3 linked regions of the Homo sapiens genome follow. The protein of the gene in region 1 purifies or fractionates together with the protein of each later gene. This does not show direct contact. Each region holds a gene or a part of one and is shown in the gene's direction. Other genes may lie near its edges.

What was found. The genes of interacting proteins can lie anywhere in the genome.
Region 2: the proteins of RUFY2 (region 1) and P2RY8 purify together in Homo sapiens (co-immunoprecipitation; one large-scale study listed by IntAct). This does not show direct contact.
Region 3: the proteins of RUFY2 (region 1) and ZDHHC11 purify together in Homo sapiens (co-immunoprecipitation; one large-scale study listed by IntAct). This does not show direct contact.

The regions. Positions count from the first base shown.
Region 1 is NC_000010.11:68,404,478-68,408,448, reverse strand, and holds the start of RUFY2 (RUN and FYVE domain-containing protein 2), read left to right. Parts: upstream 1-1,171; 5' UTR 1,172-1,259; coding exon 1,260-1,263; exon of another isoform or gene 1,264-1,586; coding exon of another isoform or gene 1,587-1,695; exon of another isoform or gene 1,696-2,624; coding exon of another isoform or gene 2,625-2,628; intron 2,629-2,983; exon of another isoform or gene 2,984-3,004; intron 3,005-3,604; coding exon 3,605-3,778; intron 3,779-3,971.
Region 2 is NC_000023.11:1,467,662-1,471,293, reverse strand, and holds part of P2RY8 (S-geranylgeranyl-glutathione receptor P2RY8), read left to right. Parts: intron 1-2,623; exon of another isoform or gene 2,624-2,792; intron 2,793-3,632. UniProt on the Homo sapiens protein: G protein-coupled receptor for S-geranylgeranyl-glutathione (GGG), an endogenous metabolite present in lymphoid tissues.
Region 3 is NC_000005.10:844,463-848,094, reverse strand, and holds part of ZDHHC11 (palmitoyltransferase ZDHHC11), read left to right. Parts: intron 1-314; coding exon of another isoform or gene 315-479; coding exon 480-581; intron 582-3,632. UniProt on the Homo sapiens protein: Endoplasmic reticulum-localized palmitoyltransferase that could catalyze the addition of palmitate onto various protein substrates and be involved in a variety of cellular processes.

The DNA.
Region 1 (3,971 bases):
CGCGCCACCACGCCCGGCTAATTTTTGTATTTTTAGTAGATATGAGGTTTCACCATGTTAGCCAGACTGGTCTCGAACTTCTGACCGGGTGATCCGCCCGCCTTGGCCTCCCGAGTAGCTGGGACTACAGGAACATGCCACTACGTCTGCCTAAATTTTGTATTTTTAGTAGAGACGGAGTTTCACCATGTTGGTCAGGCTGGTCTCGAACTCCTGACCTCGTGATCTATCCAGCTCAGCCTCTCAAAGTGCTGGGATTACAGGCATGAGCCACCATACCCAGCCGAGGTCTGAATTTTAGTGCTTGTGTGGATATTGCTGTGGCACATAATGAAATATTTTTGAATTGTTTTCTCTCTTTTTTCACTTTAGCTTTTTGTAATGAGCTTTACCAAATTGTTTTAGGGCGGGCTGTGTGGCTCAGGCGTTATCCTAGCACTTTGGGAGGTCGAGATGGGCGGATCACCAGGTGAAGAGATCGAGACCACCCTGGCCAACATGGTGAAACCCCGTCTTTACTAAAAATACAAAAATTAGCCGGGCGGGGTGGCGCGCGCCTGTCATCCCAGCTACTCAGGAGGCTGAGGCAGGAGAATCCCTTGAACCCGGGAGGCAGAGTTTGCAGTGAGCCAAGATCACGCCACTGCACTCCAGCCTGGTGACAGAGCGAGACTCCATCTCAAAAAAAAAAAAAAAAAAACAACCCAAAAAACAAAAAAAAGTCGTAATTTGGGACTAACTAGTTTTATTAGGTTTCTGCCTACTGTTAATTGCTTCAGATTTTCTAAATTCTTTTGGTCCCCTTTGTGTTTGTGAAGGTGAATGGGCAGTAGTCAGGCGTGTTAGATCAGGCCCCACCAGCCCGGTGGAAGCAACGTTTGCGTGTGGCCGGCCGCCCCTTGAAATCCGGCCTTCGCGCTCCAGCGAAGCCCCCGGGACACGGGACCGAGGGCCCAGCACTCTGGCTCCTCACACATGTGGTCTCCTTCACGTTCCTTTCCTTCTCCTCGCGGTCCCAGCGGATGCGAGGAGGCTTAGAGACGGCGGGCTTCTCTCCCGCCCGCCGCAGGGTCCGCGGGTCCCCGCCCCGCCCGGGGCGCCGCTCCCCCTGGGGCCGCCCGGGCGCCCTCCCGCCGCCGGGGGCGCTGTGGGCTGCAGCGGGCCTGGCTGCAGATGCGGTGGTGGCCGCCGAGCGCCTGGAAGGAGCTGCTGGACAGGCCGAGGGAGCCTCCGCCCGAGACCGCGCAGCCGCCGCCGCCATGGGTAAGGCGAGCGGGCCGAAACCGAACGCTAGGCCCTCAGTCCCGGGCTGAGGGCCGCGGCCAGGCGGGGTGGACTGGGAGCTGGGGGAGACGCCGAGGCCGCCAGTCGGAACTGGGGCCCGAACCCAGGATGGGCGGGGACTGCCTGGGACTCGGGGGCTCCCGGGGTCGTCATGGCAACGCGCCCCCTCCCTTGTTCCGGCCCGTTCCCGCCCGGGTTCTGAGGCATAGTGGCCGAGGGCTCGAGGTGCCACGGCGTCCAGGAGCGAGGACAGGGCCAGGCAGGGTGTCACTCCCGGGTCGGGGAGCAGGCGGGGAGGGGCGATGACTTTTCAGGTTTGGGGGTGGCGGAGGGAAGACGCATCTCAGGTTTTGGCCTGGGTGCCTGACGCCGAGGGCGGGAGACGGGGAATGCTGACGCGCAGGAGCCTGGGTGAGCCCGCCGCGATGGTCCTGGGGGGCCCCCAGGCCTCTGGGCAGCCTTGCTGGGGGGAGGGGGCAGGAAGAGAGGCAGGGAAGGGGCTCTAGGCCCCGGCAAGGTGCGGGCACTGGCCCTGGTACTCCTTGCGCGCCTGCGGCCGGGTTTGGGGGTCGCGTACGGGCCGGAGAAGTCCTGTAGCGCAGCCGGGGCGTGGCCGCGGTGTGAACGCCCCTCGGCGTGGGAACTGCCGGTGCCCAGCACCGATCTGCCTCCCAGCAGCTGCAAAACACCCTTTGTGTGGTTGTCGCATCGCACGTTAGGAATTATGATGGGCTGTGTTAAAAATGAGAGTTGCCACGGATTATGAAACATGAAGTGGTTTCACTCCCGAAAAATAGTGGGAGTCAGACCACGATGCAGATTTGAAGGAATTCGTGTGTGGACATTTTTCCACCAGGCAGTTTGGCCATAGCAGTTGTGGCTGTTTGCATTTTAGGTTGCTTAGGATTCAGTGTCAGGCTTCATGCCTAGCTATCTAGAAATCGGAGCTGGAATACTAGATCATTGGAGACTCTGGGTTTTTTGTTGTTGTTGTTGTTCAGTGAAGGAAAAACGGGCACATTGATTACTTGTAAATTTGTCAGAGATTATGAAATGTTATACTAAGTGCTTCGTTTTTCCACACCTTAGTTTTGTCATCTGTGTTTGTTGAAGGTATTCCCACCAGTCACAACAGTGATGAGATGATGGGGAAGCGTCTGAATTTCTAAGTAAACTGAGAATAAAATTTGCGGGAAGGAGGACAATATTTTTGTGAATTGAAAATATCTTACTTGATGATACTGTGTCTTAAAAATATCAATTAAAAATCAGGCCTTTTAGAATTTGCATCTATTAACTTGGTATTCAGACTGGCGCTGTGGGCATCCTCAACTGTGTGGATGGGTGAGGAACATTAATGTAAAACTGGTCTCTGCTTTTATTTTCTCTTTGAAAATAAAACAGTCATGCAATACAGAACTACAGTCAGAATGAAGAAGCCAGACAGAAAGAGGGTAGACGAAAGAATTGGACGGCTTCTTCTGTGTCCCCTTGTCAGTGTATTTTACCTGTCATGTTTGTTGTGGATGACACTGGAATCCTAGAATTTTAACTACCTTTTATTTTATTGCCAGTTTATTCTGAACATTTTTGCCTTGGAATTCATCCTAAGACCGTACCTGCTATCTACCTTTTGCATGAGGCCCTTAAACCTGTTGTCTCTCACCCCAAATTTATCTCCATAGAAGATCATTTTAAAAAACTCATTCTCTATGAAGAGGTACCAGGAAAGTTAAATACAGGAGAATGGCAGATTTGCAGGATCTTGAGAATAATTCATTAACTTTGGCTGGAGTGGTCATGGAAATTTTCTTTTTTCTTTCTTTCTTTCTTTTTCTTTTTTTTTTTTTTGTGAGACGGAGATTCGCTCTGTCACCAGATTGGAGTGCAGTGGCGCTATCTCAGCTCACTGCAATCTCCGCCTCCTGGGTTCAAGTGACTCTCCTGCTTCAGCCTCCCGAGTAGCTGGGACTACAGCCGCGCACCACCATGCCCAGCTAATTTTTGTATTTTTAGTAGAGACGGGGTTTCACCATGTTGGCCAGGATGGTCTCAATCTCTTGACCTCATGATCCACCCGCCTTGGCCTCCCAAAGTGCTGGGATTACAGGCGTGAGCCACCGCGCCTGGCCGGAAATTTTTTACAGTATATGTGAGAGATGTAAAGAGAAGTTAATCAAGGGTGTGGTTTAGCTGGGGAGAATTTGTCAACCAAGGAACAGCAAACTACTGTTGGTTTTTATAGGGGAAGGGAATGGTTTGTATATTTTTCATTGTCATGTCTTACAAATGATGTTGGATTCCTTTCTTGTGTTTTCAGCTACAAAAGACCCCACAGCTGTAGAGAGAGCAAACTTGTTAAACATGGCTAAACTGAGTATCAAAGGACTCATTGAATCTGCTCTGAGCTTTGGCCGCACTTTGGATTCTGACTATCCCCCCTTGCAGCAATTCTTTGTTGTTATGGAACATTGCCTGAAACACGGTCTTAAAGGTATCATGAGATTTTAAAAAATTAATTCATTTTAGAATTTCCGTTTTTCAAGTGCCCTTGAGAATGGGTTATTTTTTGAGGCCATAATTACGTTACTGTGCACTAAAAAATATTGAGTGGATTGATTTTGGGAGAAAATATCTTATGACTATGTTTTCTAATAATGGAATAATAAATGGTCTTCAGAAAATGC
Region 2 (3,632 bases), on another chromosome or scaffold:
GCTCACGTCTGTAGTCCCAGCACTTTGGGAGACTGAGGAGGGTGGATCACCTGAGGTCAGCAGTTCACAACCAGCCTGGCCAACATGGTGAAACCCTGTCTCTACTAAAAATACAAAAATTAGCTGGGTGCGGTGATGCATGCCTGTAGTCCCAGCTACTCCAGAGGCTGAGGCAGGAAAATTGCTTGAACCGGGGAAGCGGAGGTTGCCGAGAGCCGAGATCACACCATTGCACTCCAGCCTGGGCAAAAAGAGCGAAACTCCCTCTCAAAAAAAAAATTACAAAAAAATTAGCCAGGCGTGGTGGCAGGTTCCTGTAGCCCCAGCTACTTGGGAGGCTGAGGCAGGAGAATTGCTTGAACCCAGGAGGCGGAGGTTGCACTGAGCCAAGATCGCACCACTACACTCCAGCCTGGGCAACAGAGCAAGACTCCATCTCAAAAAAAAAAAAAAAAATCAGAAAGAACAAAAATGTCCATCCACAGGAGAATGAATAAACAGAATGTGGTCTATCCACACAGTAGACTATTATGCACCCACTGAAAGGACTCAAGCTCTGACCCAGGCTGCAGCGTGGATGAACTTTGAAGACCCCTGGCTCAGTGACAGAAGCTAGACACAAAAGACCACATATTGTAGAATTTTATTCTTATAAAATATCTAGAATAGGCAGATCCACAGAGACAGGAAGCAGATTTGAGGTTCACAGGGGCTGGGGACAGGAACGAACAGGATTAGCAGTTGTGGGGTTCTGAAGGGTTTTTGTTTTGTTTTGAGATGGAGTTTTGCTTTTGTTGCCCAGGCTGGAGTGCAATGGTGTGATCTCGGCTCACTGCAACCTCTGCCCCCTACCCAGGTTCAAGCGATTCTCCTGCCTTAGCCTCTGGAGTAGCTGGGATTACAGGCATGTGCCACAACACCCGGTTAATTTTTTTTGTATTTTTAGTAGAGACAGGGTTTCACCATGTTGGGAAGGCTGGTCTTGAACTCCTGACCTCAGGTGATCCACCTGCCTCGGCCTCCCAAAGTGATGGGATTACAGACGTGAGTCACCGCGCCTGGCCCATTTGTTTTTGTTTGTTTGTTTGTTTAATTTTAGTAACAACAGGATTTCACCATGTTGGCCAGGCTGGTCTCGAACTCCTGACCTCAGGTGATCCACCTGCCTCGGCCTCCCAAAGTGCTGGAATTACAGGTGTGAGCCATGATGCCCGGCCAGGTCCTGAGTTTTGTTTAGGGATAAAAATGGTTCTGGAATTGCATTATGGTGTTGTTTGCACATCTGTGAATATATTAAAAACCATTGAACTGTATGAATGAGTGAAAGCTTATGGTACGTAACTCACGTCTTGGTAAAGCTGTTTTTTTGTTTGTTGGTTTTGTTTTGTTTTGAGACAGAGTCTCGCTCTGTTGCCCAGGCTGGATGGAGTACAGTGGTGCGATCTCGGCTCACTGCAAGCTCCGCCTCCCGGGTTCAGGCCATTCTCCTGCCTCAGCCTCCCGAGTAGCTGGGACTCGCCACCATGCCACCACGCCCGGCTAATTTTTTTGTTTTTTTGTTTTTTTAGTAGAGATGGGGTTTCACCGTGTTAGCCAGGATGGTCTTGATCTCCTGACCTCGTGATCTGCCCACCTCGGCCTTCCAAAGTGCTGGGATTACAGGTGTGAGCCACCGTGCCCGGCTGGCAAAGCTGTTTTAAGAAGAAATAAGTGAGAGGGCTGGAGGAGATACACACAGACCCTCAAGAGGAGAGAAACATTGCTGGATGCATTGCTGCCAGACAGGTGTGCATTTACCTGCAAAGCATAAGAAAAAGGGTCCAACCTGGCCAGGTGCAGTGGCTCACGACTGTCATCCCAGCACTTTAGGAGGCCGGGGCTGGTGGCTCACCTGAGGTCAGGAATTCAAGACCAGCCTGGTTAACATGGTGAAACTCTTTTTGGGGCTACAAAAAGTAAAAAATCAGCCAGGCGTGGTGGTGCATGCATGTAATCCCAGCTACTCAGGAGGCTGAGGCAGGAGAATCGCTTGAAGCAGGGAGACAGAGGTTGCAGTGAGCCGAGATCACGCCATTGCATTCCAGCCTGGATGACAGACTGCGAAAAGAAAAGAGGGGAGAGGGGAGAGGAAAGGAGAGGAGAGAGGGAAGGAGAGGAGAGAGGGAAGGAGAGGAGAGAGGGAAGGAGAGGAGAGAGGGAAGGAGAGGAGAGAGGGAAGGGGAGAGGGAAGGAGAGGGGAGAGGGAAGGAGAAGGAAGGGGAGGGGAGAGGGGAGAGGGAAGGGGAGGGGAGAGGGGAGAGGGAAGGAGAGGGGAGAGGGGAGAGGGGAGAGGGGAGAGGGGAGAGGGGAGAGGAGAGAGGGAAGGGGAGGGGAGAGGGGAGAGGGAAGGAGAGGGAAGGGGAGGGGAGAGGGGAGAGGGAAGGGGAGGGGAGAGGGGAGAGGGAAGGGGAGGGGTGAGGGGAGAGGGAAGGGGAGGGGTGAGGGGAGAGGGAAGGGGAGGGGAGAGGGGAGAGGGAGAGGGGAGAGGGGAGAGGGGAGAGGGGAGAGAGGAGAGAGGAGAGAGGAGAGGAGGGTCCCACCTACAGCCCCTGAGCGCCCACCTGTGGTCTGTCCGTTGCTTCAGACAATTCAGTGCCCAGAAATTTCTGGACAGCCACCTCTGCAGGCCAGACACCGCCAAGAACAACCGTTGTGCTGATTTTCTAAAATTTCCATCCTGCCCGCTGAGCCCCGGCGGGGCCCAAACCGCAAGCCTGTGCCTCCTGTGTCAGGGCAGCTGGCATCAGTTAGAGGTAATTTCTTGATTAGTCATGCGCGTTCCTCAGCAGTCCTGGCTGTCTGTCTTCCCCGGGGGCTGTCCGGTGGCCACAGGGCACAGACTCGAAATGGCAACAGATCTGGCTGCCAAGAGGCTGCTTGCTGGATCCCCAGACCACACAGGTACAGACACGAGGGTGGCCGGGTGAGGCCGCCACCGTAGGACTTTCAACAGCACGTGGTGTTTAAATGTGTGCGAGGCACTGCTGCCTACGTGGAGAGTTAAAGCAACAAATTCCAGCCCAGGTGTGTTGCTCACACCTGTAATCCCAATGCTTTGGGAGGCCGAGGCAGGAGGATTGCTTGAGGCCAGGAGTTTGAGACCAGCCTGGGCAACATAGCCAAACCCCATGTCTACAGAAAATAAAAATATTAGCTGGGCAGGGTGGCATGCACCTGCAGTCCCAGGTACTCAGGAGGATTGCTTGAGGCCAGGAGTTTGAGACCAGCCTGGGAAATGTAGCAAAACTGTGTATCTATAAAAAATAAAAATGTTAGCTGGGCACGGAGGTACTGTCACCTGTAGTCCCAGCTACTCAGGAGGCTGAGGCAGGAGGATTGCTTGAGGCCAGGAGTTTGAGACCAGCCTGGGAAACATAGCAAAACTCTGTATCTACAAAAAATAAAAATATTAGCTGGGCGTGGTTGTACTCTCACCTGTAGTCCCAACTACTCAGGAGGCTGAGGCAGGAGGATTGCTTGAGGCCAGGCGTTGGAGGCTGCAGTGAGTTACGTTTGCACTACTGCCCTCCAGCCTGGGCAACAAGGCAAGACCCCATATCTATAAAACAAACAAACAAAAGAACAATTCCAGG
Region 3 (3,632 bases), on another chromosome or scaffold:
CCCCTAGGAAAGTGGGAGGTAAGGGTTCCAGTGTCTCCAGGGGCCCTGGAGGCCTCTGTGATGGCCTAGGGGTTGGCTACAGGGCTGTTGTCAGCTGCAAGGGAGGCCCTGTAGGCACAGGTGGGATCCAAGCCCCCGGCCTCAACTCCTGGAACCATGGGGCAGGCGCGGCCTCCTCCAGGGCCATGGCCCAGAGTGAGGCTGGTGTAGGACGGCTGGCGGGGGGTCTATGCTCAGGGCGGCCAAAGACACAGCTCCTCCTGCTCTGTGGCTACCTCTGCCCACAGCTGCCCTGCTTCTCCTCCTCCCCACAGGCCTCAACACCCTCCCCCAGCCTCCCATTCCCTGCTGGACGCCCTCTCCCCAGGCCGCACAGGGCTGGTTCCTCCGAGGCACCTGGCTTCCAGTGATGGACCTCTGGCCCTGCCCCAACCTGCGCACTTGGGGCCTGACAGGCGTTCCCCGATTCATCCCTCCAGGAACAAGAAAACCAAACACTGCATTTCCTGCAATAAGTGTGTGTCCGGCTTCGACCACCACTGCAAATGGATCAACAACTGCGTGGGAAGCCGGAATTATTGGTGAGGGGCACAGAGGGGATGGCCGGCACGGGCCAGGCTTGGGGGAATTTGGAAGGGAGGGGTCTGTGGGCAGGGGTCATCGTGTTGAAAGGGTGGAGGGTCCTCTTGGGGCCGCGTCCCTGTCCTGATGTGGTGGCGCTTGGTGCCTGCGTGCCCCGGCCTCCTGTCTGGCTCTGGGGCTGTGGTGCAGCCGTCCCTGGACAAGCTCATCCGCATAGAGTAAGTCCCTGGAGGCCCCCCGGGGGCACTTGCGGGGCCACGCTGGCTGAGGCCTCCTGACCACGCTGTCCTGGGCTGGGCTGCCTTCTCTCCACCCAGGCTGAGGCTCATCCAGCACAAGGGTGGGGCCACGGAAGGGCAGTGGGCACCCAGCGCAGATGGGCGAGAGGTGTTTCCCCTGAGCATGGTCGAGGCTCACAGATGAGAGGTGTTTCCCTGAGCACGGTGGAGGCTCATAGACGAGAGGTGTTTCCCCTGAGCACGGTGGAGATGCAAGGAAGAGAGATGTTTCCCTGAGCACGGTGGAGGCTTACAGATGAGAGGTGTTTCCACTGAGCATGGTGGAGGCTCACAGGCGAGAGGTCTTTCCCCTGAGCACGGTGGAGGCGCAAGGATGAGAGGTGTTTCCACTGAGGATGGTGGAGGTGCAAGAACGAGAGGTGTTTCCCCTGAGCACGGTGGAGGCTCACAGATGAGACGTGTTTCCCCTGAGCACGGTGGAGGCTCATAGACGAGAGGTGTTTCCCCTGAGCACGGTGGAGGCTCAAGAACGAGAGGTGTTTCCCCTGAGCATGGTGGAGGCTCAAGGACGAGAGGTGTTTCCCCTGAGCATGGTGGAGGCTCACAGGCGAGAGGTATTTCCCCTGAGCACGGTGGAGGCGCAAGGATGAGAGGTGTTTCCACTGAGGATGGTGGAGGTGCAAGAACGAGAGGTGTTTCCCCTGAGCACGGTGGAGACTCACAGATGAGACGTGTTTCCCCTGAGCACGGTGGAGGCTCAAGAACGAGAGGTTGTTTCCCCTGAGCACGGTGGAGGCTCATAGATGAGAGGTGTTTCCCCTGAGCACAGTGGAGGATCCAGGGACTCTCAAGGCCCCGTGTGCTGAGCCCCGGCTGTCTGCAGCACTGTATTGTGAAGATCACCAGGGAAAAGAACCACGCCTGCTCCCCAGCTACTCTGTGCTGACCTGAAAGAGGCCTTGGTGTGCGTGGGAGTGGGGACCAACGTTGCCTGGTGTCACAGGACGCACCGGGCGGTCCCTGCCCTGCCTCCCTGCCATCCCGTCTGGAGCACAGCATGTGTCCAGAGAGGCTGAGCAGCCCGGCAGGGACAGAGAGGTTGCATGACCGCACAGCGAGTCCAGAGGCTGCGTGAGATGGTAGGGGCCGGGGAGACCCACCGGCCTCCTCCCCTGGAGAAGAGCAGCTCCACGATGGCCAAGGTGGGGCCAGCTCCTCTGGCTCATGCTAGCCCCAGGTGCCACTTCCTTCTGGACTCATTCTGCTCTGGTGCCTCGAGCTGGCTCAATCTGGCGGGTCCTGGTGGGGAAGGTGAGGGGGTGAGGGCCCACAGGCAGGTGGCAAGGAGAGGGTCTGCCTTCCTCAGGAGGGGTGCTGGAGAGGGACCACGTGGGTGCCAAGTGTAGACACCGCCTGGGTGTGGGAAAGGGGCATCAGGAGAGCAGGGCCGGGGTCATGGGCGCCCTCAGCTCCAGGCAGCAGCCAACGCCGGCATCTGTGCCAACCTCGCTTCTGTCCCTTCATCCGCCAGAGGCGGAGAGAGCAACGGCATTGAGAGCAAGATGAGGAAAGTTGAGGAGCTGATGGCAGAGCCCCCGCGAGGGAGGCCGAGCTGATGGCGGAGCCCCCATGGGGAGGCCCAGCTGATGGCAGAGCCCCTGTGAGGGAGGCTGCATACTTCGTAGTGATAAGAGAGGAAGGGGGACGGAAAGAAGGCAGGCGGCGCTGGTGTCCTGGGAAGACTGTGAGCGCTGGCCTCGGACTCTGCAGGTTAAACACAGGCAGCAGGGGCAGGAGGCTGTGCTAACCAAGAGGAGAATGTCCCTGGGTGGCTGCGGGGAGAGGAGGCCCCGCGTGAATGGCTCTGCCCCATCCTGTGGGCTTTTGTCTCTGTGGTCTTAGAGACCCGCCTTCTTTCCTGGATGAAGAGGGGAGTCCTGTCCAGACAGTAGGATGAAGATGAGGGGTCTTTACTCCCCACAAGTGGGCTCAAGCCCAGGAGGACTGGGGGCAGGGTAGGGCGTGTCCGCTGCCTGGAGGGGCTGCTGCTTGGGAAACCTAAGCTGTGAGAGGGAAGGCAGTATGAGGGAGCAGCAGTCAGGGAGCCGCTCATGCCTGGAGCCACCCGTCACCCCTGGATTATCCAGAAGACTCTTGGAGGGAGGAGGAGCGCGGGGAAGGCAGCTGTGCCCTAACTGCCTCTTCGGAGGACTGCGGCATTCATGCTCTGGCCTCCAGTTGAAAATAGAAAAAGGGATTTAAACAAGCTTAGGTGAACATAATACAATGGAAAGGATTAAAGGAGGTTAAAGGATACTTTTAAAAAAATATCATCATGGCAGAAAGACCAAGGGAAGATGGTTTAGTCAAAGTATGTTCCAGGAACTGCTGCCCAGAATTGGTTTTTGTGGATGGATTATTCTCTGCATCTTTTGAGCAAAGACGAGAGACTGGGAGTGGATTTGGTCTCACGTCTACAGCATGGACATCGCTTTTGGCTCAGATTTGCACGAGACCCTTGGAGAAGGGGGGACTGCAGCCGAGGTGTGGCCGGGCTCCTCCAGGGCCTCCTCAGCCCGAGTTCCCTTTGGGTGCAGAGATCCAGGTCCCTGAGCCTGCAGGCCCTCCTGGGTGCCACGGCACTCTCGTGGCTCTCCCCTTCCCTGGCTTCAGTGCCTTTGCCCAGCATGGTGCCATGGAGACCCCAGCACAGACCATGCTCAGGGCCCCCCGAGTGGACCGAGCCCGCGTGCTCCTTGGCTGGTAGGGAGGCCTGTCTGCATCAGGTGGAGTCGGGAGGTGCGGGCAGAG